4 linked regions of the Homo sapiens genome follow. The protein of the gene in region 2 interacts with the protein of the main gene of each other region in a pairwise test. Each region holds a gene or a part of one and is shown on either strand. Other genes may lie near its edges. The genes, in order: ZNF326, NCOA5, MEIG1 and RAB30.

Region 1 (7,664 bases), on a different chromosome or scaffold from region 2:
TTTAAACTGGAATGTATGACTAGTGCTTTTACAAGGGAGAGGGGGAGGGGAAGAGGGAGGGGGAGAGGGAGAGAGTTTGTAATGATAAAAGGCCATCTAGGATTTACTGGATAGTTGGATTTAATGTCTAAACATAGGACTTGAAATGCAGACTCATGCAGGGCCAGATGTTTATTTATTAATTAGTATACAGTGTTGCAAAAAGATCTAATATGACTTTTATTTTTTCTCTTAATTTTAGTTATAACTGGTTCTCATCTGAGGGTGATTGTTGGAATCTCTTGGGGAGCTTTTTCAAAGTCTCTCTTTTCACACATAGCCTATACCTCTTGAATCTTAATTTCAGGGCAAGTGGTCTTTGGCTGTGTATGTTGTGCAAAACTACTCTGAATGATTTTGGAAGGCACCTCTGATTAAAGACCAATGCTTGACAGTACTTCTAGGTCTAGATTATCTATATTTTACAAATGAGGAACTTAATTTCAGGGATTCAATTTGACTTTGTTCAGCAAATATTTATTTAGTGCCTGCTGGGCATCAGATATCGTTCTAGGAGGTGGGAATATAGCAGTGAACAAAATGGACAAATATTCCTGCCTTTGTGAGGCTTTCCGTCTAGTGGGATGAAATAGTAAACAAGATAAGAAATAATATATATGTCATAATTTAGTCCACAGGGGAAAAAGGGAGTAATATTTATTGTATGTTAGATGATGATCATTGCGAGGGAGAGTAACATAGAGAAGGAGGATAAATGTGTGTGTGTGCTTGTATGTGTTGCAATTTTAGAGTCTCTGGGGAAAGACTCACCAAAAAGATGACATTTGAGCATAGATTTAAGATGAGTGAGTATGCAAGCCATGAAGCCATTTAGAAGAAGACTTACGGGCTTTAAGAAATAAACAGTGTGTAGGTACCAAAAAGCCAAAAATATATTTTATTGTTAGCACTGTATTTTCTAGGAAGTGAAATGAAGTAGAAGGCATTGGAAAACATGGCAAGATACAGATTTTCCCCACACTATTTCTTGGAAGGAAAATGTATTTCCAGTGTCTCCATGTTTTCCTTCTTGCTTCATAATACCTTTTACATAAATAGCATATAGAAAAGGGGAGAGAAAAGGGTGTGGTAGCTCATGCCTATAATCCTAGTGCTTTGGGAGCCTGAGGTAGGAGCACTGCTTGAGGCCAGGTGATTGAAACTAGCTTGGGCAACATAGTGAGACCCTGTCTCTACAAAAAAATTTTTTAAAAACATTAGCCAGGCGTGGTGGTGCCCCCCTATAGTTCCAGTTACTCCAGAGGCTGAGATGGGAGGATCGATTGAGCCCAGGAGGTGGAGGCTGCAGTGAGCTATGATTGTGCCACTGCAGTCCAGCATGGGTGACAGAGCAAGACCTTAACGCTGGCTTGACTAGAACAGATGATTTTTTGCTGAGCAATCTTAAGACAAGGTTAGAGTGGTGAGGTGGAGCCAGAAAGCATTGAAAATCAAAGATAATTTGCTTATATATCAGAAGCAATACAAGTGAAGACCTGAAAAAGTTGAGGGAGTAAACAGTGCAGGTTCAGGGGAATGAGCATTCCAGGCAGAGGGAACAGCAGCTGCTAAAATGGGTATACACCTTGTGTTCTAGAGACATCAAGGGGCCTGGTGTTGTAGTAGTGGAGTGAACAGGGGTGTATGTAATTGATAATGAAGTTAAGAGGTGATGGGGCATATCATGTAGGGCAGGGTTTCTCAAATTTCTTACATTTTGGACTGGGTAATTTTTTGTTGTAGGGGGATGTCCTGTGCATTGTGGAACATTTAGCAGCCTCCTTGGCCTCTATAATATGCCAGATGTCAGTAGCATCTGCCCCCTAGTTGTGACAACCAAAAATGTTTCAGACATTGCCAATGTCCCCAGGGGGTGCAAAATCTCCCCTAGTTAAGAACCACTGGTATAGGTTCTTAGATGTTATTTTAAGCTTTGGCTTTTACTTGGAATAAGAGGAACCCATTGGAGGTTACTGAGCATTGAACATGATTGAACTTAACATTTTGTCAGAATTATTGTGGCTGTTGTCTTCAGAAAAAACAGCAAAGGAGCAAAAGTGGAGCAGGAAAACCAGTTAGGAGACTTTTGCAATAACCTAGGTGGTAGATGTTGGTATCTTGTAGTAGGGTGCTGGTAGTGTAGAGTTGCTAAAAAGTAGTCCCACTCAAGACTTAATGTCACATAGTTAGTTATTTTGGTCATAGGTCAGTTTTTAATTTTTTTTTTTTTTTGAGGTGGAGTTTCTCTCTTGTCGCCCAGGCTAGAGTGCAATGGTGTGATCTCAGCTCACTGCAACTTCCGCCTCCTGGGTTCAAGCAATTCTTTTGCCTCAGCCTCCTGAGTAGCTGGGATTACAGGCACCCACCACCATGCCTGGCTAATTTTTTTTGTGTTTTTTAGTAGAGACGGAGTTTTACCATGTTGGTCAGGCTGGTCTTGAACTCCTGACCTCAGGTGATCCACCCGCCTTGGCCTCCCAAAGGATTGGGATTACAGGTGTAAGCCACCTTGCCCAGCCCATAGGTCAGTTTTTTTTCCCCCAGTATGTCACAGCTGCTGCTTTGTGTTTTAATTAAAAATGAGTTTTAGCATTTTTGAGCGTATTATTTGTATGATAGAGTGATCCAAGTGATAGAATATATTTGATTTAAATTATTAGGTCAGTTTTATTTTTCTGGGTAAATTACTATCATTTAAGATATACTACTATGTTCTCATGGTTTTATTTTTAAAAGTGATTTTAAAATTCATTTTGGTGACCTGGAAGAAAAATTTATAAAAAAGCAGTCATCTTACATTATCTGTAGCCCTATAACTACACTGATTGTATACAATATAAAGACTTTTCCTCCTGTTTAAATGAGTAGTAACATTACTATGAACAATCAAACAGAATCATTGCTATATAAAAGTAGCTTTATTAATTTTTGTACATTTCACAGTGCCTAACACATACATGGTTAGTGTACAATAAATGTTAATAATTTTATGATTATAGTGAAATAAATAGAACAAAAAACTAAAGGTTTTAATATTCAAAGGCAGCCAGTGCTAACTCAAAATAGAAACTAGCAGAAATAAAACATAAGATTTTTTTCTCTGTGTACCTGACTAAACATAATCTTATTTTTTAATATGAGGCCTTAGAGGAAAACTTTTCATTTTGAAAACTTTATTTTAATCTCAGAATTATCCTCTGAGAGATATGAGCATAAATTTTACTATATACTTACCAACTGTATCACAAAAAATTAACTATTTTATTAATCTGGGACTGTGTTGTCCAGTTTGGTAGCTACTAGCTACATGTTACTGTTGAGCACTTAAAACATGGATAGTTTGAATTGAAGTGCTCTGTAAGTGTAAATTACACACCAGATTTGAAGTCTTCAAATGAAAAAAGCAGTAACATATCTCCATATGTTTTGTATATTGATAAACTTTTTGTACTGTTATATTAAAACCCATTAGTATGTCTTGCACTTTGAATGGATCTTTTTTACCATATATTATTTTGTAATATCGGCATTATTTGGAAAATACTAGTTTTTATATAAAATGCAGATTTTCCAAATATTGATCAGTTTTATGGCACAATATTTAAAAAATCATATTCAGTGATACCACCACCAACCTTTCAGAAAGCCTTTAAGTATTGGGAAGGTGTCAAGCTCAAGGTGGTAGATACAACTTTTAAAAAATTCTAATGTTCACTTGAAAGCATGAATTTTATCCTTGACAACAAATAATGTCGGTCGTTTTCGTTAAAACAATGTTTTCACTTAGTTCTTTTTTTTTTTTTTTTTCTTTGAGACGGGTCTCACTCTGTCGCCCAGGCTGGAGTGCAGTGGCACGATCTTGGCTCACTGCAAGCTCCACCTCCTGGGTTCATGCCATTCTCCTGCCTCAGCCTGCCGAGTAGCTGGGACTACAGGCACCTGCCACCACACCCAGCTAATTTTTTTTGTATTTTTAGTAGAGACGGGGTTTCACTGTGTTAGCCAGGATGGTCTTGATCTCCTGACCTCGTGATCTACCTGCCTCGACCTCCCAAAGTGCTGGGATTACAGGCGTGAGCCACCGCGCCCAGCAACTGCTGTTCTAAGATAAAATTTGGACCTTTACCACAGGACTAGTAAATTTAAGATGAGGCCACAAATGGCAGAGTAAGGCAGAGTATCACAAGCACCACGTGAGAGTTACAGGCTTTTGTAAATATTCAGAAGAAGGATGACACTCAGCTGAGAGAGTATCAGTAAAAGTTTTCTTGAATGCATTAGGATTTGAAATGGACTTTAAAAGATTAGAAAGTTTCAATAAGCTGATATTTAGGGTAGCAGAGGAAAATGTTTCATGTAGAAGCAATAGCATGAGACTAGACAAGAGGATATGTATAGAATTTTGGGAAAATCATTTCATCTCTTTGGACGTCAGTTCCCCAGATCTATAAAATGAGAGGATTGATTTTGAACATTCAGGTTGCTACCAGGTTTAAAGTTGGATGACTTTGAGTACTATTTTTATAAAGTTGTTATTGTTGTCATTATTGTTGGGACTAGAGATATTATATGATTATATAAAATTTAATGTTTTAAAAAATATAAAATTAAGATATTTACTCTGTGTGTACTATTGTATTTATTTGTGTATGACATTTGGGGAGAGTAATGAGGGATTTTTAAAGGACTTTATAGAAAACAAATTCTAAATGTTTGTTTTACTTTCTGATTTTTGTAGTCATCCTAAATTGATTTTGTTACCTCTTTTGTTTTATTTTTCATATCAGAGGTTGGTATATAGGCAGAATTGCAGTGTAATAAAATAGACTTAATATGCTTATTGTATTAGTTTTTTTTTTTTAGTGTTCACATTGCTAGAATTTGCATTCATTTGTTGAGTCATAATTTATAGGCACAGTGCCATAGATTGGTCTCAATCTGTGATTTTACTTTTTAAAAATATCTGTTTCAATTACTGTGAACAAGGCTAATTGGAAATGTGGCTGCTTCTGAGTTTTCAGACATTTAAAGAGCAGTTAGATGCAGAAAACAAGTATAGTCTACTGCTGTCATATAGGACAAAAATTTCCCCTTTGACTTTATTAAATGCTGACTTCTTTTAAGAATAGGAATTATGTATCATTAATTATATATGCTATAGTACTTAATACAAGGCCTTATAGTAGTCCCCTAGTCCAACAAATATTGGTTAAATTGAAAATAATTCTGTGGCCAGGTGCAGTGACTCATGCCTGTAATCCCAGCACTTTGGGAGGCCAAGGCAGGTGGATTGCTTGAGCCCAGGAGTTCGAGACCAGCCTGGGCAACACGGTGAAAGCCCATCTCTATCAAAAATACAAAAATTAGCCAGTCTCATAACCCAGTCTCAAAAGAAAATAAAAATAATTCTAATATAGAACTTTTTAGTTGAAAATATGTTTTTCTTTGAAATATCAGGGCTTTTTTTTTTTTTTTTTTTTTAGCAAATTTGATTTAGTAGCTTCTCATCTTTGTGTTTTTCCCTTCAGCATTTAGTGTGAATTTAGTTTAAATGTTAATGGTAAATTATCTCAGGTGATAGATAGGAATATCTTGTGTTTTGTGCAAAGATCCCTGAAGAGAATGGTGTATTTTACTGACAATTTCTTATTGACTCTCTTTTAGGAATGGATCGTGATTATGGCCCTGGATCTTATGGAGGTCTGACATTCAAGGATATTTATCTAAAAATTCTTCTTTTGAGTGCCAGTAAAGGTGAGCATCATATAACTTTTTTCTTTTTAAACTCTTATAGGGATGGATCGTGACTATGGCCATGGATCCTATGGGGGTCAGAGATCCATGGATTCCTACCTAAACCAGTCATATGGCATGGACAATCACAGTGGTGGTGGTGGGGGTAGCAGGTAAATTGCTTAATCATTTGGCCAAATAATTAGACAACTATAAGATTTTGGATATATTATTTTAAGTACTCTTTAGGCATGTTATGATACTTGAACTTCACTGTTTGCTATTGAATCATCACCTTAAATATTTAAAGGTGTTAATTAATGGGTATAAAATTTAAATCAGTATTACTGGCAGACGTTATTTTAGGAAAACACCAGATAACTATATCATGTCAATATAATAGAGTAAGATACACTTTTTAGCAGTGAACTTTTAAAAAATTCTTTTACTTTTAACTTCTTGTCAATCAAAGTATCCTGAAAAATGATATAAAAATGTTATTGAAAATATTATTTATGAAGCTTTTTCTTAATAATTAAAAAAAATCTTTTCTAATGTGGGGTGCTATGTAAATTAGCAAAGCAGTCTAACTAGAATGGATTTTACTGAACCAGTCTAACATTTACTTTCCAAGAAACATTCAGGACATATTCCTTTAATTCTAATTTTAAAGGAAGAGCATATTGCAATAATAAAAATATTTTTAAAATTATGTTCAGGTTATTTATTGACAGGTACTACTTACACCAAAGCACTTGTGCTCTAGGCTAGAAGCATTGTATTAAAGCCATGAATACTATACCTTTGACTAGTCGAGATTGTATTTATATTTTCCTGTTACTACTGTATAAAGCTTAAACCTACTTAAACAACTACAAGCTTTAAGGTTGACCATATTTCAGGAGAAGGGGTGTCTACTTTTTGAGGCACAAAGGTTCCTGCTGAATATAAGTAAAACTAGTTAGTAGACATGTGAAACAGTCATCCTTCTGCATAAATTGAAGGATCCGGATTCCTTAATGATGGACTGAATGATGCTTACTTTCCTTCTTTCTGCTTCCAGTGTACCACTATGGTTTATAGTAAAGAAAAATTAAGAAAGTGAACAGTTGCAACTATTTTGCTTATGTGATAGATGTTTTGAAAAATGTAGTTGGAAATAGGAATAATTTTTATATGGTTACTAGGATTCAGAAGTAAATCTATTTAGTGATCTGTAAATAATTGAAGTAATGTAACACTTAATGTTTTAATATGTCAGTTATTGCCCTTTTATATTGTGAATGTAATGTGCATAAGCTATATCCGTAGATGTTATTGTTTTATCTCATGTGTAATTGTGGGCCTTTATAAAATTGTGTTGTAAGATATCAAGCAACTTTTGTAATCCATGCTTTGGGTTTGTGAGAAGGAAGATGATTTATTTCTTCTGTTAACTCTCTTAAAACCTCGAGGAGACTGTGTGCTCCCTTTTTTAGGGTAGTTTTATGTGATAATTTCCTGAAGGAAATAATTTTGCAAATAATTGAATATATTATAAGATGTATTCTTTCTCATCTGCCTTGAAAATTCATATGCAGAGGGTATATGTTGGTGATCTTTTATGTTTTATCTGTTTATCCTTCTAGATTTGTTAGATTTTCTAGTCTACAAGTAAAAAGTGATTGAGGATTGATTAATTGACCTTGGCTGAAGTTTGGCAGATTGTTAAATTTTTATAACCAGAGATAATTCCCCAAATTTTGACTCCTACAGACACAATGAAGCAGTTTGTGATATAGATTATTGGGAGTGCAAAAGGATCTCTCTGTGTCACAAATAACCTACATCTAAGTAGACTTCAATTTGTGTCCCTATTGAAAGCCAAAATATTGTAAATGTTTTGTAATTTT
Region 2 (7,664 bases):
AATCAACCTACTTGCTTTCAATTCATTCAACACATAAATACACTAACTATCCTAAAATGCCAACTTCTATGTTAGAAAGCCTAATAAATCTGACAGCTATTATCTCCCTCTCATTTCTAATTCAACCTCCTCAGTTCTACTTAATTCTTATAACTCACAAGATATAATCTATCTCAATAGTTTTATTTATTTGATTTCTATACTTGGAATATTTTTCCTGCACTAATCCAAGTACCATCCAATCCACACAGGCAAGTTCGTGTCCCATGTCTTCCAAGAAACCTTCCCTACCCTTCCTAACTGCTGATCTCTTCTGCTCAGCTCAGGGCACTTTCTATCTGTATTACTCATCTTGATCTGGCATTTACCCTTTTACAACAATGTCTTATGTCTGACCCGCTTTAAGGATTACCTTCTCCGTAAAACCTGCCCTGAACTCTTGATCTTCCCCAACAACCATGCTCCTCCTCCAGTCCTTCCCATCTCAGTAAATGGCACATCCAACTACTCAGTTACTCAAGCCACGAAACTGGATGTCATCTTTCCCTTAAAGCCTCATCCTCCCTTCCAACCACATTTCCAAATTTTCTCCATTCTTTCTCAGTTCTGCCCACTTTCCTTTACCTTCTTTGGCAAAACTGAAGGCCAGCGCATAATCATCTCACCCTCAAACCACAGCAAGAGCCTTCTAAAGCAGTCTCCTCATTTCTGTTTTTGCCTCTTTCCAAATCTTTCTCCAGAAAGATCACTCTACAGTGATCTGTTACGTATGTAAAGCCCTTCCCTGGTTTCCCACAGTATGTATTTATTTTTATAGGGATGAGATCTCACCTATGCTGCCCAGGCTGGAGTGCAGTGGCTATTCACAGGTGGGATCACGGAACACTACAGCCTTGAACTCCTGGGCTCAAGTGATCCTCCTGCCTCAGCCTACCAAGTAGCTGGAACTACAGATGTGTGCCACTGTGCCAGGCTCCCACAGTATTTAGAATTCAATCTACAACCTCTACCAATGCCATGAAGGTCCTGTATAATCTTGGCTCCTGTCTTCTCTAACCCTGTCACACCCTCTCCCTAGTTCACCACTCTTTGCCACACCGGCCTTTCAGCTCTGCCTAGCCAACGTCTTTCCTGATCCCTTTACGTGAGTAGCAGGAAGAGATCTATACTCCTCTTCCAGGTCTCAGCATATAAATATCCCCTACTCCCTGATTGTTAGATTCAATCAAAGTTTACTTTCTGCCCCTAAAATTCTCTCATAGCACTGTTTTCACTTTTGTCATTTATCACAAATTGACATTACATATTTACTTAATGTCTGTCTGCCCTACTAGACTACAAGTGCCACAAGGACAAGAACTATGTCACTTTGATTCTGCACTACAAACCCACTATGTAGAACAATGTCTGTTATACGACAGATGCTCTATATGTATGTTGAATGAATCTTGCTCCAGTACAAACTTCTATAACCGCACTTACCACACTGTTCTGTAATTGTTTACGTGGCTTCCCTACCAAATAAGAAGTTCTCTTGAAGGCTTTGTAGCTCTAGGATACACCATAGGAGTTCAGTAAATGTTTAATGAATTGAATTATTCTACTAAACTGTAAGCCTCTCAAGAGCAGGCAGCATGTTTTGCTCATACTTTTGTCGTCTACCATGGTTACACACGTTAGGTATTCATCATGATGTCATCAGCTTGTGGAAAACCTCACCTCAGCTACACGGGCACAGCAAAAACAATTTAAATGCCAATTTTGCTTCCATGAAAAATATTTGTTATATATTCTAAGGTTCACCAGCATTCCTGACTTGTGAGAGCAAACATATCATAGACCAGGGACTTTAAATGAGAATAGCTAAGCATTATTTTTCTTATTAGAATAAAGTAAAGACTAACCAAGATTCTTACTTCAACCTTCCTTATTACATCATATAATCTTCCTAACATGTAACATCTGATGTAGCATGTAATGTGGGCAAACACTCAAGATCCAAAGAGAAAGGACAACTGCAAAGTATTTTTGGATTAATGATCGGCAGATAAACCTGCCTTGGGGAGCAGTTAGAAGTAGTCATTAGAGGTGGAATCCAATTTCAAGTGTTCTTGGCAATCAGGGCTGAGATATCATGATCCTGACAGACCACAGACCACACACAAAGCCTTGGGCTGGTGGAAATCGGGGTGGGGCATGTCATAGCATGTTATTTACCACCTTCGGAGTATTATAAGTGTTATGTTATGATTGGTCCTCATTCTTTTGAATCCACTGAAAAACCTTACTTACCTGTCAAAGTCCATCCCTGCAAGTTGACTAAAACTCTAGATTCGCAAAGTCTGGGTTCAATCTTCCAGTCTGAGAGGGCAAGCCCCACCCTTTCCCTCAAATAATTTGAAGTCCATGTGCAACAAAACTACTAATTCCCTCTCAAGTGCCTTCAGGGTAAAAATGTAGAAGAGGTGATATTCACAAAAGGAAAAAGAACCAAAGGCATGGTGGAAGTAGGGACAAAGAAGATAATAATTTTCTCAAAAGGAAAGGCAAAGCCTTTTTTCCTTTCTCCAAAAGATAAACACTATGGTAGACTGCTGTTCTTCTGGAGACGAAAACAAAACAAAAAACCCTTTAGGGTTGCTTTAGGACCCAAACAAAGAACTCCTCAGAACAAAAGGGCTCCTGCTGCTGGCCCCAACATATTTTTCAAAACAAGACTACAGCTAACAAAAGGGCAGTAGTATGCACGAATCAAAGTGCAAGAAGACAAAGCTTCCTGTGGGAGACGCTGGACCTCAGATGATAAGTGGGTTAGAATCAGGTTTCTGGAGCATAATAAGGTTAACAATATCATCCCACAGCACCAGAGGTGTTTTACTAAAGGAACCAAATGCAGCATACCCTCAGGTACTACATCACTAGAGGATAAAAAGAAACTGAACAGTGGTTAAATTTCAGCACTGGAGTCCACAAACTGAAGGCAGGTGGCAAACACAACTAAAATTCTGCTGTAAATTCCTCATCTATTCAGGAGGGGGAAAAAGGCAAATACTCTTTGCCTTGAGGGGAATATAGTCACACTGCTGGGAAACATTTGAGACGTAAGGGCGAAAGGGGTGAAGGGGAAAACAATGGCTCTGGTGGCAAGTGATGAGCTTCTGGTAGAATGTGTCTCTTCCTGAGGACTAAAGGGGTGTGCAGAGCACCAGGCATGTGACAGCCTACAGAGTAAGAACTGATAGATGATCATCTTGGAAAACTGTGATGGACTTTGAATTTCTCTTTGGCAAGAGACTGAAACTTCACATCCAAGATGGTTTTCTTTGGCTTTGGTTCTACAGACGGTCAGGGAGGAAGACCCCTGTCTTTTTCTTTCTTTTCTGCAAAGGTCAGCATCTCCTTTCTTCCTTTCTGTTCACCGGAATGTCTTCCTTGGGAGGGCCAGCCTCTTTCTGACCCTGAAAAATCCTTCATTAGCTCTTCAAACTTCTGTCACAGATATACTGTCCACAAATATCATCATCTAAATGGCTGGCTGCTGTATGATGTTGATCCTCCACCAGGAGGGCTTCATGCTACTGTTAGAAATGGAGACAACAGACTTGTCCAGAATATTGCCATTAGGTGGAGGTAGGATATGGACGTGCAATGAGATATCACACCTCACAGACCCAAATTTTACACATGTCCATGCTTTTCCTTAGGAAGCACTGACAACCTTCTCCAGCACAAACAGAACTTTCTTATTGGTAGAGGTGGCAGCTGCTGAGAACTGATGACTTCTTCAAGTGTTACTGCAGAGGTAATCACAACCTGGAATTTCTTTGTGGCCCACCTAGAGCAAGGGCTGTCTCACAACCAGGGAGCAAGCAATAATCAAAAGCATTAGGGCCCTGTGGATAAGCAGAAAGCATTTCAGGTCATATAAGAAACTTGTCTACAGCCAGGTTATTTCTGATGAGCCGATACCCAATGACTTTCACCAAAGAGATACCAGGTTTAACATCTTTCACAAATATATGGGGAAAAATCCTCTGCAGAGCGTTGGATGCAGACAAGTTAATTCTATTTGTTCTTCTTTAAGTCATTCAGAAGTACAGTCTTACTTCTTGTACCTAGAGGCCACATCTGCATAAAGATATGCTACAAGATCTGGACTGTCAAGGTGTTGAGCTGAAGATGGTAACTGAGATATCTAAGGCACAACTGGAATCATGATCCTGTCTTTGAAGAAGGACTAATGCTTAGTATCGATGCTTGACAACTTGCATGGTAACTATGCAAGGTACTCACAGGAGTTCAATGAAGTGGCCCTCAAGAGTTAGATGATAAGAATTCAGGCTGAAATGTGATCCAGAGCAGAGATTCCTCATGCAGAGTTCTGTGCTTGGCTGGGCCAATATTGTCAGAATTACACACTGACAGCTGGAGTCATCAGGGAGTCATATTATTGAATAGAGAGCAAAGCCAGCAGAACTGTGGTTTACTGAAACATCTGAAGAGGTGATAATCCTGTAAAACTCCCAAAGATACCTACGTTAAGTCCAGCAAAACAAGGTGTTATAAAGGTCTTGCCAGTATGCTTATACCAATATTCTTATTAAACGTAGAAAGCGCTAAAAATGTAGAGGTATAACTTTAGGAAATATTTGCCATAGGTAGTGTTTTTTTTCCCCTGTGAATGATGCACCCCCTGTGGCTGGGGGCATACAAAATGATTAGGGCTGCCAAATAAAGGCAGTTTGTTGTTGTCAACTATTGATACATTTGGAGTTATCTCAAGGCTTTGACTGGAAGCATGCACCCAAAGGAGGTACCCAGTGTTCACCCTCAGTTAAATGATTTGCCCCTTCCAGATTAATTACTTGCCCGTCTCACCTACTCTTTGCAATTTATGTCTGCCCTATTGGTATATCTTAAGAGATAAAGTATGATCAGGACAATGATTAAAATGTTAGTGCTCGCTATTTTGAATACAATGTTAAACCTGTCTTTTTTTTTAAGGTAAAAAACTGGGATTTTGAATACAATGTTAAATTTGTCTTTTTTTTTTTTTAAGGTAAAAAACTGGGACTCTTAGTTCGGTTTTTAGATGGGGTTACTAATGGTGACCATCATTCTTCCCTGAAGCAAATAAACATGACTGTATGGAACTTCATCATGTTAAATAACATGCTGAGGAACCCAGCTAGGGAAATATCACCAAGGGGAAGATGGATTGTTAATGGAATTTGAATTAGCCTAGCTGTCCCTCCTGTTGATTGTAAATAAAGCAGGAAGTCACTGCCCTATCCACACCACCAAATGACCTCATTTTACAATTGATTTCTGAGGAAGGTGATATTTTAAAAGGCATACAAAGGTGACCTGTATATTTATATAGTTGGTAAGGAGCTCATTTTATTTTTTGAGACAGGGACTCACTCTGTTGCCCAGGCTGAAGTGCAGTGGTGTGATCACGGCTCACTGCAGCCTCAACCCCCTGCACTCAAGTGATTCTCCCGCTTCAATGCCTCCCCAGTAGCTGGGAGTACAGGCAAGAGCCATGACGCCCGGCTATTTTTTTGTAGAGATGGGGTTTTGCCATGTTGCCCAGGCCGGTCTCAAACTCCTGAGCTCAAGTGATCCGCCCACCTCGTCCTCCCAAAGTGCTGGGATCACAGGTGTGGGCCACTGTGCCTGGCTAGAAGCTCATTTTATAAGGCCCTCTCCAGTGCTGTCTGTATGTTTGTTTGTGCGGGGACTATTATTTAAAAAAAGCATAAAACTATTTCTAGATTGGGGTAAATTAATATTTTTAATTTAATGCTCTGGCAACGGCTATTACTGGGTTTCAACCAGGGAAGTTGGTCATTCCCCAACACTGCAATGTTTGTTGAATATCTACAATCAACTAGAAATGTTAAAAGCATTTGGTTAAGTATCATTAACAGGATGATATAAAATACCCTTCTCAATCCATAACAGAAACAGGATCTATTCTCTATTCTGCAATGTGGCTTATTTGTTGTTGTTGTTTTTGCCTGCAGAAACACACAGACATTATCCAGAGATCACCAAGTATCATGGAGACAACAGAGAGGGGTAGGATTTTACTAGCGGAGTCAGTGTCTTTTATAGTTACAAATTCCACACTCCTGGTAAGTCACCAGGAAACACACACGTTAGCGCTCTTTGGAAATTGGATACACACCTTATCTCCTTTCAAGCCACCTGGCAACTAAAGATTCCAATGGGAACCCTGTACTTCTGAAGATTAGATGCAACTCTTATCCACCTGTATTCCATTCTGTGCTGGGACAATAAGGAGCAACACAGATAGGACTGCCCAAGATCTGTGGCATGGTTAGATGAAGGCTAATGAAAGCAGACATTATACGGAACTGCTGAAGTTCTGCAGGATTTGTTTATGTTCTTCAGGATACTCACACATACACACAAATCAACCAACAGAGTATTTACCTGCAAGCTGCAAGCATTCTTTAGAGAGAACAGACAGAATACCAATTTACATGCCCACTTCCGCAGTGAAACCAACGAATGGCCAGGGAATCCACACGACAGCTGTGGTATATAGCTGTAGCTATGGTATTGGATTCAACTCTGCTGCACAGGCAGAGTGGACAAAGACTCCAACTGAATGAAACCAGCAGCATTACTTGCCCTTAGGGTCTGCTTAAACTGCAGAGTGGGCATGCGTAATCTATTCCCGGTAGCTAGAACTTCACATCCAAGTAGGAGTATATACATGAAACACACAGTGGACATTCTTTCATATAAGCAGGTAACAAAATACAGGTGTTTTTGTCCAAAAGCAGGACAGCTGTATGTTATGCGTAATGCTCAGTTAGTTGGGTTCACAAGGTGACCAGTGGAGCTACCAGTACAGACGAGGATTCACTGTATGCAGCACTGTCCAGTTCACTGTAGGAAATGCAGTTTACTGTGGTACGTAGTTTAGTTATGTTTCTGGGGAAAACTGGCTTTTTTACTTAGAGGCAAGGCAAAATCAATTAATCCATTTGGGCCTTGAAGAGACACCAGATATGAAATATATCATTCGTATGAAATATATCATATCTGTCTGCCCTCTACACAAAACTGCATCCACTTGTGTGCTGTTATGGGGCCAGAACAATTGAATACAGTATCTTTATTTTTGGTGTAAATGGTATCATTAATAAAGCTCTTCTTTGAGAGGAGGGACCAATTTAATGTGTATCTTGAGGGTACACACCAGGATTATCTCTTTTGTATACACCGGAAGGAAGAATACATTGGGAAAACACCCTCGATTTCCGTGAAAGCTAAGAAAAAGGGAGACCTTCGAGAGCTGGAGTGTTTTGCCCTTTTTATTTCCCCTCAAACAGATAACCCAAGTATGTAAGCAAACAGGGGATCTGCAGCACAGGCACAGCGGCAATCTCTCAAGCAGCACTTTCCGTAAACCTGGGTTAACATCTGGACCGGCAGCCATTTGGAATGAAGAGTCGAATCTCTGCTGCCCACTGCAGTGCAGCATGGCATACACCAATGACTCTGGGGCACTCCTTCTGCTCTGGAGGCTCCCAATGACACGTGAGCTGGGGACAGACAGAGGTTTATCCTCTTCCAATTGCCTGCAACTCATGTTGCAAGCTGAACTTGCTGGATTTGCCACCGAA
Region 3 (7,664 bases), on a different chromosome or scaffold from region 2:
TTTCTCTCTTAATTTAGACAGAGTTTTGCTCTTGTTGCCCAGGCTGGAGTGCAATGGCACGATCTTGGCTCACTGCAACCTCTGCCCCCCAGGTTCAAGCAATTCTCCTACCTCAGCCTCCTGATTAGCTGGGATTACAGGCATGCGCCACCACGCCCGGCTAATTTTGTATTTTTAGTAGCGACGGGTTTCTCCATGTTGGTCAGGCTAGTCTCGAACTCCCGACCTCAGGTGATCCACCCACCTCGGCCTCCCAAAGTGCTGGGATTACAGGCGTGAGCCACCACGCCCAGCCTAACTTTTTTCTTTAATATTTCTTAGAACCTTTTTCCTGTGTAATATATCTATATTCCTGTGTAATGTTTCATATTATATATATGAATGGATTCTTAGGCTGTATCACATGTCCAACTCACCTCTTTGTCATAGCTGGTATATTGCTATTATATTGTGCAGCAGTGGAGTAGTGAACTTCCCACTAGAATGAATGGCATTAAAGGACAAAGGTTTCACTGAAGCGTGGCTTATTTGTTTTGCCAGGTGTTCCAAATTTTACATAAACTCGTATAATACTGTAAAACTGGACCGGGTGCGGTGGCTTACACCTGTAATCACAGCACTTTGGGAGGCCGAGGTACACGATCACTTGAGGCCAGGAGTTCAAGACCAGCCTGAGAAACATGGTGAAACCCATCTCTACTAAAAATATAAAAATTTGGCAAGGCGTGGTGGCTCACGCCTGTAATCCCAGCCTTTTGGGGGGCTGAGGCAGGCGGATCATGAGTTCAGGAGATCCAGAACATCCTGGCTAACACAGTGAAACCCCGTCTCTACTAAAAATACAAAAAATTAGCTGGGCATGGTAGTGGGCGCCTGTAGTCCCAGCTACTCAGGAGGCTGAGGCAGGAGAATAGCATGAACCTGGGAAGTGGAGCTTGCAGTGAGCCGAGATCGCGCCTCTGCACTCCAGCCTGGTGACAGAGCGAGACTCCGTCTCAAAAAAAAAAAAAAAAAAAGAATACAATATAAACACTATAATATTTAGAATGTTAAGTAATTTAACAAAAATCTAAATAGGAAGAGCATTAGAACATCTTTCTTGTTTTTCATAGAAAAGAGTCCATTGGTACTTGTGACTTAGCCTCCTAACAGTCTTCATTATCTTTTTTTACCAACCACTAAGGGAACATTTAGGCTACATCTTTCATATTGAAGAAATATTTGTCTGAAATTCAGCAAGTCTGTCTATTTTATTTCCATTTCCTATTTTTCCTCTATTAAATCCAAGTGAAGCTAAATTTATGTCTTGTAAAAGCATTTATTAGAAGATCCTTTTAAATAAAACTTTTAAGTCTATGTTAATTAATCGTATATTTAGCATGATTTTTACCCAGTATGAAGGATGGATATTTCTAATTAATGTCATGCTTATTTTGAGTTTTCCTTTATATATATGTATATAAGAGTGTGTGTGTGTGTGTGTGTGTATATATATATATATATATATATACACACACACACACATATATATGTATACTTTTTTTTTTTTTTTTTTTTTTGGAGCCAGAGTCTTGCTCTGTCACCCAGGCTGGAGTGCAACCTCCACCTCCTGGGTTTCAAGCGATTCTCAAGCCTCAGCCTCCCAAGTAGCTGTGATTGCAGGCACCTGCTACCACGCCCAGTTCATTTTTTTTTTTTCCTTTTTGAGAAGGAGTTTCGCTCATGTTGCCCAGGCTAAAGTGCAATGGTGTGATCTCAGCTCACTGCAACCTCCACCTCCCAGGTTCAAGTGATTGTCATGCCTCAGCCTCCCAAGTAGTTGGGATTACAGGCATGTGCCACCATGCCTGGCTAATTTTGTATTTTTAATAGAGACGGGGTTTCACCATGTTGGCCAGGCTGGTCTTGAACTCCTGACCTCAGGTCTCCTGACTTCAGTCTCCCCAACTGCTGGGATTACAGGCTCGAGCCACCATGTCCAGCCTTTCCCTGTTATACCTTTAATGTATTTCTTGACCTTTTAAACATAATGAGCATTTGTTATTGTGATTGAAAAAAATTCATAAAATATTAATTTATTTACAGGATCTGACTTTAATGTGTTTCAGCCAATAGAAATATATTTTAATAGAAGAATGCATTCAAGGAATCATAGTGAAAATTCTGTACACTTTATTTCAGTTAAATGACTGATATATTTTGTTAATAAAATAAGTAGCTGAGAAAACAAGTGTAAGATTATGCCTTTGAAAAACTTGCTATGGAAGTTCGGTGAATAGACAATTACATGAACTAAAGTCGTATATTAGACTTTCCAAGACTATTAGTGACCTCCTACACTGTTTTTAAATCCATGGTCTCAGTACCACGACAGCCACACAGTGTGCATGGAATCTGTGTTAGGCCATTTTCTCACATTAGTTCATCAAAAGATCAGGTACTACAGTGACCTCAGTAAATGAATTGCAGCAATTGGGATGTCTCCAAGCAATTAAGAAGTGAAAAAGAATAAACCATCCCCTCCCAGAAACAAGAAAGCGAACAGAGTGAGAAGACGGGTCTTACATTCCCTTTTTGAGAGAGAGAGAGAGAGAGAGAGAGAGAGAGAGAGAGAGAGGTGCAGCTTTGAATATAAGTAATGGAATGGTGGTGGATATTTTGACAATCTACTGAGCATGTTTTCAGAAATGTGCAAACTATTACCTGGAACTCCAGTATTTGCATACAGCTTTTAGAACATCACTCCGTAACTCCAACTCTGACTGGGATTTTATTGATAAAGAAAAAAACAGTTTTGTATGTATCTTTCAGGGACTTGGGGTTTTTTTTGTTTGTTTCTTACAGTTTTATCCCCACAAAATAGAGCATGAATCCTTCTCAATCTTGGAATTGTATGTTTAAAAACTACTATATTTAATGGGATTCTCAACTCTAAGTATAATTTTTAAGTGTTAGTTTTATTTATTCTTTTTTTTTTTTTTTGAGATGGAGTCTTGCTCTGTCACCCAGCTTGGAGTGCGGTGGCACAATCTCAGCTCACTGCAACCTCCACCTCCTGGGTTCAAGCCATTCTCCTGGCTCAGCTGCCCCAGTAGCTGGGATGACAGGCGTGCACCACCATGCCTAGCTAATTTTTGTATTTTTAGCAGAGACGGTGTTTCACCATGTTGGCCAGGCTGGTCTCAAACTCCTGACCTCATGATCCACCTGCCTCAGCCTCCCAAAGTGCTGGGATTACAGGTGTGAGCCACCGCACCCGGCCAGTTTTGTTTATTCTTAAAGGGAATTTCAAAATTGTCACTATTACATTATCCATTAATGTTGTTTTAACATCTTTCAGATATTATTGATAATAAGGCCTCTGTAACCATGGCTAGTTCTGACGTAAAACCAAAATCAGTAAGTCATGCCAAAAAATGGTCAGAAGAGATAGAAAATCTGTACAGATTTCAACAAGCAGGATATCGGGATGAAACCGAATATAGACAAGTGAAACAAGTTTCTATGGTAAGATTTCTGTCTCTACAAACCTCAACTCGAAATGTATTTCTCAGATGCTGAAAAGTATTTTATAAACAACCAGAGAATAACTGAAGGAAATTCGACTCCAACTCTCTCATTTTATTTGTTTTCTTTTATTTACTTTTATTTTATTTTTTGAGACAGAGTCTCATTCTGTCACCCAGGCTGGAGTGCAGTGACGCAATCTCGGCACACTCCACCTCCCGGATTCAAGGGATTCTCTTGCCTCAGCCTCGTGAGTAGCTGGGATCACAGGCGTGCACCACCACGCCTGGCTAATTTTTGTATTTTTGTAGAGACGGGATTTTGCCGTGTTTGGCCAGGCTGGTCTTGAACTCCTGACCTCAAGTGATCCACGCGCCTAAGCCTTCCAGAGTGCTAGGATTACAGGCAATAGCCAGGACGCCCAGCCAGACTCTCTCATCTTATTAACGGGGAGAGGCCCAGAAGAATGATTTGCAGGCAGAGTGGGAGAAGAGGTGGTCGTTTAGCTGGGCACATTCAGAATTTTCTCTTTTATTGAGCAACTGTGCTCTGCTAAATGAATCTTTTGCGGTAGACCACAAAAAAAAAGCTTTTTTCCTCACTCAGGTGATTTCATTATCAGATAATCAGTATGTTGGGTAACTATTATTTCCCTCCTGTTACTTTTTATTTTAACCATGAATTAGAAAGAGGTTAAAATCCTGTGGTTTTTGGGGCAATTATACCTTACAAACAAAAGTGTTAGAACAACTCGTGACTTTGATAGTATATCCCAGGCTTTCCTGAGAGGGTAGAGACCTAGCTTTGCTTTATGAAGGCTAGACCAAAGTCTAGATTTGGCTCCCGTTTATACAGTGTGGTTCTTCTTAACTTATTTATTCTCTTGGCTACTAAGATATTTTTTTTTTTTTTTTTTGAGACAGAGTCTCACTCTGTCACCCAGGCTGGAGTGCACTGGCGCAATCTCGGCTCAGTGCAACCTCCACCTCCCGGGTTCAAGTGATTCTTAAGAGACGTGTTTTTACAAATTCAGTTCACCCCTGAACAACACAGGGACTAGGGGCTTCAATGCTTCATGCCGTCAAAAATTTGTGTATAACTTTTGACTCCCCAAAACAACTACTAGTAACCTAGTGTTAACAGAAACTCTTGCCCATAAGGTGAATAATTGATCAACCCAGGAATACACTAATATCTTGATATATTTTATGCATTCATGACAAACCTTTTCTTAATTATTTTTGATATTTATAGTCTGTGTGGTTTGCAACTTTTTTCAAATCGTTGCAAATCTCAAAAAAAATTTCAACAAATTTTTTGAAAACAATCCATGTATATATGGACTCCCCAAGTTCAAACTTGCATTGGTCAAGGGTCAACTGTATTGTAAAATATGACATAGTATTCATAAATATATTTTAATTTTTAGATTTGGGATTATAACAGTGTTTATTAACTCAGTTGTTTATTTTTATTTTTTACTAACTCATCATTTTTCAGATTCTAATGTGTAGATTTTGCAGATCACTATAAGCTCTTCTTTTTCTTTTATTCTATTCTTTGACCTCTACTTAAAAATTCCTTTAAAAGTACATAGGAGGCTGGGAGTGGTGGCTCACGCCTGCAATCCCAGCCCTTTGGGAGGCCGAGGTAGGCAGATCACTTGAGGTAATGAGTTTGAGACCAGCCTAGCCAACATGGTGAAACCCTGTCTCTACTAAAAATACAAAAATTAGCCGGGCATGGTGGCATGCACCTGTAGTCCCAACTACTTGGGAGGCTGAGGCAGGAGAATCACTTGAGCCCAGGAGGCAGAGGTTGCAGTTAGCTGAGATCACACCATTACACTACAGCCTGGGCAACAAAGCGAAACCCCATCTCAAATAAATAAATTAATTAATTAAATTAAAATTTTAAAAGTACATAGGAAAAATAATGGAGGCAATACGGAACTATCATGTTATTACCTCTTTAATAGACATTAATTTAATGACATTATTGTGGTTAACAATAGAATTTAAAATACTGATCAAGTGAAGATTGATTACTGTGACTTCCATGTATCTGTCTTCTCAACCATTATACTCTATCCCCATTGCCAAGGATAATTTTCATTACTATATCATCTATGGCTTTTAAACAGAAAAAACAGAAGCATTATCATTTTTATGCTGTTTAAAATAAGCTTTGGGCTGGGCGTGTTGGCTCACACCTGTAATCCCAGCAGTTTGGGAGGCCGAGGCAGGTGGATCATCTGAGGTTGGGAGTTTGAGACCAGCCTGACCAATATGGAGAAACCCTATCTCTGCTAAAAATACAAAACTTGCCAGGCATGGTGGCACATGCCTGTAATCCTAGCTATTCGGGAGGCCGAGGCAGGAGAATCACTTGAAACCAGGAGGTGGAGGTTGTAGTGAGCCGAGATCACGCCATTGCACTCCAGCCTGGGCAACAAGAGTGAAACTCCATCTCAAATAAATAAATAAATAAAATAAGTTTCATACCCTGCCTTAAGATTGGGATGCCCCTAAAGATACACAAGCCTCAGACTCATAGGCGGCCAGCTGTGGTGGCTTACGCCTCTAAGCCCAGTGCTTTGGGAGGCTGAGGGTGAAGGATTGCTTGAGGCCAGGATTTTGAGACCAGTCTGGGTGACATAGTGAGAACCCATTTCTACAAAAAACTTTTTTTAATTAGCCAGGCATGGTGGAGTGTCTCTGTAGTCCCAGCTACTGGGAGGCTCAGGTGGGAGGATTGCTTGAGTGCAGGAGATCGAGGCTGCAGTGACCTGTGATCACATCACTGCACACCAGCCTGGGTGAGAGAGCAAGACCCTGTCTCAAAAAAAAAAAAAGAAAAAAGGAAAAAAGAAAAGAAAGTTGTCACAAGAATTAAATGTAATCACATGTTTGAAGTGCCTGACATTATAGTGCTCATAATTTGTTGGGCTGGGCACAGTGGCTCACGCCTGTAATCCTAGCACTTTGGGAGGCAGAGGCGGGCCGTTCACCTGCAGTCAGGAGTTAGAGACCAGCCTGGCCAACATGGTGAAACCCTGTCTCTACTAAAAATACACAAAATTAGCCGGGCATGGTGGTGCACACATGTAATCCCAGCTACTAGGGAGGCTGAGGCAGGAGAATCACTTGAACCCGGGAGGGGGAGGTTACAGTAAGCTGAGATCATGCCACTGCACTCCAGCCTGGGCGACAGAGCGAGACTCCCCCACAAAAAATTTGTTGACTGAAGGAACAGCAAGTGTTTAGTAAATGATACCTTTTATTAATCTCATCATCTTAGATTCTAAAATAAGTAACAAGAACAATAAAACCTTACACAAATCGAAGTATATGTTCCTTAACAAAAAGAAGCACAGGGATTTAGAGGAAAACAAAATCACTTCCTTCCAGGGACAATCCCCAGAGAGGGCTTAGTGTCCCCAGTGGCATTTGCAGTGGGTCTTCAGGGACGGATAGGATGGTGACTGAAGGCTTGCTTTGGGTGGGATGTTTCTCCCAGTGTGCAGTGGTTTGAGGTTTGAGAGAAGCTGTTTTTCATTACCTGGTGGTATAGTGCTTGCTGACCTTCCCTCCTGAGGGGAAAGTCCTTGAACTTGAGGATCTCATTCCATTCCACCACAGGCAAGAAAGTTTCCCAGATCAAATGGAAATGATCAAGTTGAAAGTCAAGAAGAAAAGAAAGTTCAGAGATGCCAAGGGACATCAAAAGGAAAAATGTCTAGAAGTCAACAAGCAAAGGAGCAACTTAGCTGTCCTAAGGATTGTCCCATATCAAGTAGCTCAGCTCCAGATGTTCGGAAGAGGCATTGGTTGTACTGTTTTCTCACCGGATCAGATGGCTTTCAGATAATCTGCTCCTGGCCCCAGGAGGGAAGAGGGCTGTAATGGAGTCTTGAGAACACCTCCTTTCCCTGCCAAAGGTATTGGAAGCCACACAGGCAGGTGTGGCCTCAGTGGTGGAAAGGACTGCTGGTTTTCTGTAATGTATGTCAGAAGGCCTGCCAAGGCTTCTCAGATATGCTGTTACCTATTCTCGCTAATTCATAAGTAAATGAGATGACACAAAAAATGAAGATGTGTTATTAGAAAGTAAAAGACATGTGGACACAGATGGTATATTCATCTCCTCTTCCTACT
Region 4 (8,157 bases), on a different chromosome or scaffold from region 2:
AAGCTGAAAGTGTCAAGAATACTTTTTTTTGTTTTGAGACAGAGTCTCACTCTGTGGCCCAGAGTAGAGTGCCATGGCACAATCTCGGCTCACAGCAGCTTCCGCCTCCTGGGTTGAAGTGATTCTCCTGCCTCAGCCTCCTGAGTAGCTGGGACTACAGGCATGCACCACTACACCCCCGCCTAATTTTGTATTTTTAGTAGAGACGGGGTTTCACCATGTTGGCCACGCTGGCCTTGAACTCCTGACCTCAGGTGATCCACCCACCTCAGCCACCCAAAGTGTGGGGATTACAGGCGTGAGCCACTGTGCCTGGCCTAGAATACATTTTAATGGGTCTCTTAAAAGCATTTTACATTTGGCATCTGTATTATTACTAATAGTCCTCTTCCAATGTGTTGATATTTCCTGCTTTTGAATAGGCCCTTAGTGACTTAGGTTAATTCACTCACTCTACCAACATTTAGAGTCCCTAATTTGTGTGAGGCATTCTGTTGGGTGCCTGGAAACACAGTCTGGAGCGCTTTTGCTTGCCTTCATGTCTAGGATCAAAGGTGTGGATGCCTCCCGCACCCATCACCCCTACCCCCTAGCCTAGTATTGCCAAAGTACCTCTTTGTACGTGATTATTTACGTTTGTCTCCCTCACCTGAGTGAATTCCTCCGAAGTAAACAGTATCTTATTCAATGTTGTTTTCCTAGCATGGTGCATGGAAAACTGTTATAACAAATAAGTAAACTGAGTATACTGTTGTTTTCCATGCTGGGGTAAGTATAAACTATTGGAATAAATACATTGTACAGATGAGGAAACTAAAGCTCAGAAAAAAAAATGTGATATGTCCAACATCATACAGCTAATAAATAAGCAGTGTCCAGTGTGAGAAAGCCTCGTCCAGAGCTCTCTTCTACTCCATCATGCCACATCCTACACATGGACAGCAAGAGTGAAAGATCTTAGATGTCTTCCAGGAACCTCAAACTCAGCATGTCCAAAGGTCCTCCCTTCGGAAAACAAAAAGACCTGGTTCCCATTCAGTGTTCTCTTTCTCTGAAAACGTCATCCCCAGTTGCTCAAGAAAAAAACTCAAGTCATTTCATGACTCCCTTTTCTCCCTATCCCCCCATCCAATCAATCAACAAATCTTATCAATTACAATTTTCAAAGTTAGTGTCGGCCGGGCATGGTGGCTCATGCTTGTAATCCCAGAACTTTGGGAGGCAGAGGCAGGTGGATCACCTGAGGTCAGGAGTTCGAGACCAGCCTGGCCAACATGGTGAAACCCCATCTCTACTAAAAATACAAAAGTTGCCAGGTGCGGTGGCTCACGCCTGTAGTCCCAGCACTTTGGGAGGCTGAGGCGGGTGGACCATTTGAGGTCAGGAGTTTGAGAGATCAGCCTGGCCAGCATGGTGAGACCCTATCTCTACTAAATATATAAAAATTAGCTGGGAGTGGTGGGTGCCTGTAATCTCAACTACTTGGGAGGCTGAGGCAGGAGAATCGCTTGAATCCAGAGATGGAGGCTGCAGTGAGCTGTGATCATGCCACTGCACTTCAGCCTGGGCGACAGAGTGAGACTCTGTCTCAAAAAAAAAAAAAAAAATACAAACGTTAGCTGAGCATGGTGGCGGGCACCTGTAATCCCAGACAATAGGGAGGCTGAGGCAGGAGAACTGCTTGAACCTGGGAGGCGGAGGTTGCAATGAGCCGAGATTGCGCCATTGTACTCCAGCAAGGGCAACAAGAGCAAAACTCTGTCTCAAAAAAAAAAAACAAAAAACTTAGTGTCTCTCTAAACCCTCTGTCACCACCCTAGATCTAAGCACCATCATCCCTCATACAGACGACAAAAATTATTTGCTACTTGGTCTCTACACATTCACTCTGACCAAGTCTTTCCTTCAATCTCCTCTACTTAACAGCCAGGATAATATTTTAATATCATCCTACATATGCCATTCATCTAGTTTTTTAAAGCCAGGCTAGGTTCTCATTAGCCTTAGGATAAAGACCAAAATACACCTGTAGCTCAAAGAACTGCCTACTCTCTAGCCTCTGCCCACCTCTCCAGCCTCATTCTTCATTCTAGTCTTTCTCCTCTTGCTCTGTCTCTAACTTCCTTTCAAATCCTCAGGTTCACCACTCTTCCCTTTGAACTTTGAACATGAAGTTCCCTCTGCCAGAAACCTTTGTCCCACTATAAGCATCTCCCACTGCCATCCTGAATTACTACTTCCGTTTACCCTCCAAGTCTCTTGAAGTGTCACTTCCTATAGGAAACCTTTCCTGATAACCCTAGACAAGGGGAAAGTACCATGTCAGGCACTCCTACCCAACCCTTTTGGAAATGGCATTCATCACACTTGCAATTATTTATTAAGTATATCCCCTATTAGAATATAAGCTCCATGAAGTCAGGGAAAGCATTTGTTTTCACTGATGTATCCACAGTGCTTAGTACATGGTAGCTGCTCAATCAATATAAATTGTCAGAATTATAGGTTGGGGCCAGATTATAGAGGGCTATAACATCAGTAAACCAAAGAGCAAGGATCATTATCCCTTTGCAAATAAGTAAACCGAAGCAGAAAGAAATGAATAGTTATTTAAGGTCCCAGAGACAGCAGTGATGAGGCCAAATCTAACACTACATTCAGCCCATTTCTCCTCCCTAGGACAATAAAAGAAACTTTGGTGGGTAAGGAAGTATTTCAGAAGAAGAAAATTAGGAATGAGAAGATGGTGCATAAAAGGTCTAAGAGGACAGCTTCTGAATCTGCCTGTTACACTAGTTGCCTCCAGATGGATAGCAGTTAGACTTTCCACACCTAGAGGAGCACTGCTGTTACATAAACAAATATAGCCACTATCACACTCTTCCCGTTAAGAGAAGAGAATAAAATAACAAACTTCTTTCCTGCACAGAGGAGAAGAAACAACCAGGGTGGGTGGGGAACTGTTGTCCTCCAAGTATCTTCAAAAAACCAAATGGGCAGTTTGGCCACCTGGATTGCTACTCAGCAATCCACAGGGAACAGGAAGAAAGAGGGGGGAAAGATCAGCCTTCCCACCACCAGCTGCAGCAAGGATAAGGAAAAAAAAAATGTATTGTATAAGGCAAGCCACTTGAAGACTACTTATTCCTTGGGAATTATGAGAACATTTCATGTAGAGCATTTAAAAACCTTGCTAATCCATAGGCAGGTGCCAGTGAAAGGAAAAGTGGCATGAGCCCAACTGCAGCATTTCATTGTTCACATGCTGCTGGGGCTAAATTATGTCTGTCACAGGAACTACAAACCAGACCAGGGGTCAGGCTCATTGCTGCTCATCCTGCCAAGCACAGACTGCAAGAAAAAGAAAAGGCAAAGAAATTCTCTTCAAAGAGGATTCTGCAAAAATATTCACATAGTCTACATCCACCCAGGAGTTCCTAGTTGAAGTGGAGGACCAGGGAGTGTGTTCTAAGATTGAAGAGAAAGAGATGTGATATGCTGGTGATAAAGGAGGGGTTTTGAAACAGAAAGGAAAAATGTAAACTGCAAATGGAGAGATAGAGAAATAAACAGAATTTCAAGAGATGTGGGTGGGATGGGGTGGGGTGGGGGGAAGAAATGAAAGTACAGGAGAGAAGGGTAGGGTGTCCAGAAGAGCAGAGCGTCATCAACAGAGAGACGCAGAGGCAAAGGCTAACTGTTGATCTTTTCCCAAATCCAAAAGCTGCTCATTGGCATCCCAATAAATCACTCTACTACAAAGCCCATACAATGGACTGTCCTTTGCATTCAGCATCAAGCAGCATTTAATGAAATATCACACAGCTACAACTTTGGAGACCTAAGGATCTGAATTTAAAATGAACAAAATTGGCTTAGCAGCAGAAGACAGCCAGTAAAGAATTTCGCCCATGTCTGACTCAGCTAGGAAAAGGTTTAGCATTCTAGAGTTAAGCAAATACTCTGGCATTTCTCCTTCTTTTGACATTCCAAGAGGGGGTGTGGTTGACCCCAGGCCCATTCATTTCCAAGGGTGTAGATCTCTCAGCCAAGACTGGCCCCATCTGTTGTGGAGCCAGCCAGCTGTTTATCTCAAAGTAACATATCTATTGCCCTAATTATCCCTATAACTCTTACAAGAGCATCATGTAAGTCAGAATGCTTTCTCTCCTGTTAAATGTCAGTTCGTTTAAAAAAACAACAATAACAAAACAACCAAAATCACTCTTCCATGGGCACCTTTCAGTAATGGCAAATGAAGGTTAACAGCGCTTCTAACTTTCCCTTTCTCTAATGTGTTAAAATGAACCCCTCTTCCCTAATCGATCTCTTCAAACCGTTATTTGTGAGTAGTGACTATGCCTCAGGAAACAGCAGCTCATTATGGTACCATTGTCAGTGGCAAAGAGCCTATGCAATGTAATTTAAAACACACAAGCACAAATCTGTCGGCTCCACTTCCAAACAATCTTGAATCCAGCAGTCGGAGAACGGAAAACATTTAACAAAAACGCTGCTTCCAGCAGCCTGAAAGAACCTTCGCCAGACACGTGAAATGTTTCTGACTGGCACGGAGTGCACCATTAAAGGACACTGTCACCTCAAATCAGCAGAAAAGGCGAGACAAACCACATAGACATACACACATAAAATAAAGCCCTACAAAACTTAAGCACGTTCATCTTAAAAATTAATAACTAGTGCTCGTCCAAGCGACATTCAAATGTTCTAAAGTAGTGCGACCACATTAATTCACTGTCTCCATTTCTCCCCACGCATCACCCCTTCCCACTCAAACCTCAGCTCTCGGGCCGTGTGTGACAGGACTGCAGTCCCCCACCTCTGCCTTCCTCAGATTTTCCAAGAGCACTCCCCAACATCCTTCCCAGCCCAGCCCCCTCTCTCCGCCTCAAAAAGGTTGAGAGGAGTTGCGACTAGGGAATTGGCAGGCACCCGTCCTCTGGCGGGGGAAGGTTGCTGGAGTTGTTCTTTGCAGTGACCCAAATGGCACAGAGCTTTTCCCCTTAGCTGTGCCTGCAAGCCTCTCCCCAATCCCCCCCACCTCCCCACCGCTCACAGCTTCCCAAAAGAAAGCCTTGAGAACTAAGCGGGAGGAATAACTTGGTAGAAGCATTTGAATAAATCACTTCAACTCACCTGGTTTGGGATTTTTCTCCCCACCCCAGGCATAAACAGAAATGGATGTGCGAATGAGTCACGCACGCAAGGGAAGGTCTGCGATGTCCTGAGTCCAAGGGCTGGAGTCAGTCCCTGCCCTGGTGCTGCTGCTACACTTAGCTCAGCTGGAGCGAGCGGCAATCGCAAGCCCAGCAGCAGCAGGGGGTGGAGAGACCGTAGCACAATGAATGCAGTGGGGCTTTTGCAATGACATCATCCCTCTGTCCAAACGTCCCCAATAGCCATGCTCGGGAGCGGTGCTTTCTGGGAACTGTAGTCTTCTTACGTCCTGAAGGGATACCCAGGCAATCCCCGAAACTACAATGCCCAAAATGCTCCAAGTGGGACGCGCCCAGAGTGAAGGAGCAAAGGGGACTCGGCCGCCATGTTAGGAGTACTGGGACGATTCCGCGGAGCCGGGCAGAGGTTTTAGGGGTGCGCAGGAGTCAAGTGGTGGTTCAGTGGGGACGGTGAGGTGGAGGACGATCTGGTCGGATAGCCGCGGGCACGAACCTGGGAACCAGAGGGTGGAGGCCATGCTGGGGACTGATGTAGGGCGGGACCGACTGGAAGCGGCATCCAGAGGCCCAGTGAGCCTCGGTCTCAGCTCCTGAAGGGGTTGCATGGGGCCCTACGCTTCCTTCTCCATTTTTTAGCTAAGAGATTGAGAGAGTCGGTTTACTTTTGGGCTTGGAGTATCATTTAGATCTGTTAACAGTACAGTTGAGAGAGTTGGTGTCTTTTGTTGAGGTGCGAGGACCCGAGGCGGCGACCCTCGCCTTTATTCGGAGAAGCCCACTTCCACCCACAGAGTTGGGGTAGTCCTCCGAAATGCATTTTTGTTTTGCCGTTTGTTTTCCAACCCCCTTTCACTCTCCCCAAAGCTTCAGATTCACTGATTTTTCATACAGGAATGATTAACAAAGGCGTCCGAAGAAATCGTTGTTGGAAGGTGACCAAGGTGGAAAGAGACGTTGCTTTGGCCCTGCAAGTAAGAAGAGAGAGGGAATAGCCTGAAGGAGTAACACTAAATTTAAAATGACACTTTTTTACCAACCAGCGAAAGCAGATGTTCAAAGGGGATATTGGCCAGGTGCGGTCGCTCACGCCTTTAATCCCAGCACTTTGGGGGCAGACGCGGGGAGATAGCGTGATTCTAGGAGTTCAACCCCAGCCTGGGCAACATGCGGAGACCCCGTACCGTCTCTACAAAAACATTAAACAAAAAAATTAGCTGGGCATGGTGGTGTACCCCTGTAGTTGCAGCTACACTAGAGGCTGAGGTGGGAGGATCGCTTGAGCCCGGGATGTTGAGGCTGCAGTGAGCCTCGATCCTACCACTGTGCTCCAGCCTGGGCGACAGCAAGCCCGTGTCTCAGAAAAGGCGGGAGGGGTGGGATATTATTGATGATAGGCCTTCTGACGTCTGGCAATAGATTCCAGAGTAACATCGGTCATGGATAAATTTTTTTTTTAACTAAGTGACTGAAACCAAAGTTAATTGTCTTTTGAGTGATTTTGCACAGTATCTCAAAATGAACTGTACTTTTTTTCTTGTGTCACTGAAACAGTGCTGTGTGTTCTTTTTCAGAGTCTGTCACACTAAGATGAGAAATGTCCTTTCTTCCTGAAGGTGTCTGATGTGTAAAAATATGATATACTTTGTGCTGTTTCCTCCCTTCCCTTTTGCATATTATTCTGAAACAACATTAACTAGTTACTTTGCGTCATTGAAGGTATGCACTTCCCCTCTATGTTAGGAGTGAATAAAATTAAAAATAGATCCTTATAACAAAGAAAGGCAGATAGAATGATTAAAAATGACCAAAACATGTTAGAAACAGTCTCTCAGGTGTATGCAGATGGTAATTACAAAAATACTTTTTCAAAAAATGATCTTCTGTGTCATGTTTCTGGGAACAAGTCAAGATGAATGAGTTTGATTTTTAAGCAGAAGTAGTATGTGTTGGTGTCATCCATGAATACAACAATGAAAAAGGCTCAAAGTTGTTGTTATTCAGAAACTTCTCTAAGTAATGGTGGTAAGTACAGGAAAAGGAGCAATGTCTACCATTTTCTTTCTAACCTTCGATTTAACTATTGTAATGTTGTAAGCTTAACAGAGACTTACACTTAGGCTTAATTTCAAGCTCTTCAATCATTTTTCCCGGTTGGTGATTCAGGTGTATTCTCATGTCTTATGTAAACTTATCATGAGTGTTGTTGATTTATAATATATTTCTTTATGTAAGCCATAGCCTTGTCAGTTTGAGTTATATGGAAGACAAATTGTAGGGAAAAAGAGCAACAGATTACTCAGAAACCTTCTGTGTGAGCTGGGCATAGTAGTGCATGCCAGTAGGCTTAGCTACTTGGGAGGCTGAGGCAGGAGGATCACTTGATCCCATTAGTTTGAGGCTGCAGTGAGCTATGATTGTGTCACTGTACTCCAATCTGGACAACAGTGAGACTATGTCTGTTTTTAAAAAAGAAAGAAAGCTTGTGTTTGAGAAGTGATACCTCTAGAATACAGTGATTTCTATAATTTGTCATGTGTTTGGGTAGTTTGAAGTTTTTCTATCCTTGTATCTAATGGACATCTGACCATAAAGATGAAAAAATCCTGCACTCATTATAAATTTTATTTATAAAATTGATATTTGAGGAGTTGGGGAGGCCAGCTTCTGAAAAAATAACAGTGTCCCATAGAAACACCACAACTTAGGAAAATATTGTTAAAGTGGAATTAGGAATATCTAGAGGAGGTAAAGCTTTTCATCTCTCAAAAAAGAATTAGGGCCAGGCACAGTGGCTGACACCTGTAATCCTAGCACTTTGGGAGGCCGAGATGGGCACATCACTTGGGGCCAGGAGTTCAAGACCAGCCTGGCCAACATGGCGAAACCCCATCTCCAAGAAATAGAAAAGTTAGCCAGGTGTGGTGGCGTGCGCCTGTAATACCAGCTACTAGGGTGGCTG

Evidence for each region.
Region 1: the proteins of NCOA5 (region 2) and ZNF326 interact in a two-hybrid assay, tested with the Homo sapiens proteins (one large-scale study listed by BioGRID).
Region 3: the proteins of NCOA5 (region 2) and MEIG1 interact in a two-hybrid assay, tested with the Homo sapiens proteins (one large-scale study listed by BioGRID).
Region 4: the proteins of NCOA5 (region 2) and RAB30 interact in a two-hybrid assay, tested with the Homo sapiens proteins (one large-scale study listed by BioGRID).

Annotation. Positions count from the first base shown.
Region 1 is NC_000001.11:89,999,300-90,006,963, forward strand, and holds part of ZNF326 (DBIRD complex subunit ZNF326), read left to right. Parts: intron 1-5,703; coding exon 5,704-5,739; exon of another isoform or gene 5,740-5,793; intron 5,794-5,833; coding exon 5,834-5,945; coding exon of another isoform or gene 5,946-5,949; exon of another isoform or gene 5,950-7,146; intron 7,147-7,664. UniProt on the Homo sapiens protein: Core component of the DBIRD complex, a multiprotein complex that acts at the interface between core mRNP particles and RNA polymerase II (RNAPII) and integrates transcript elongation with the regulation of alternative splicing: the DBIRD complex affects local transcript elongation rates and alternative splicing of a large set of exons embedded in (A + T)-rich DNA regions.
Region 2 is NC_000020.11:46,071,525-46,079,188, forward strand, and holds part of NCOA5 (nuclear receptor coactivator 5), read right to left. Parts: intron 1-7,664. UniProt on the Homo sapiens protein: Nuclear receptor coregulator that can have both coactivator and corepressor functions.
Region 3 is NC_000010.11:14,963,100-14,970,763, forward strand, and holds part of MEIG1 (meiosis expressed gene 1 protein homolog), read left to right. Parts: intron 1-3,340; coding exon of another isoform or gene 3,341-3,369; coding exon 3,370-3,507; intron 3,508-7,664. UniProt on the Homo sapiens protein: Essential for spermiogenesis.
Region 4 is NC_000011.10:83,066,534-83,074,690, forward strand, and holds the start of RAB30 (ras-related protein Rab-30), read right to left. Parts: upstream 5,365-8,157; 5' UTR 5,158-5,364; intron 4,930-5,157; exon of another isoform or gene 4,799-4,929; intron 1-4,798. UniProt on the Homo sapiens protein: The small GTPases Rab are key regulators of intracellular membrane trafficking, from the formation of transport vesicles to their fusion with membranes.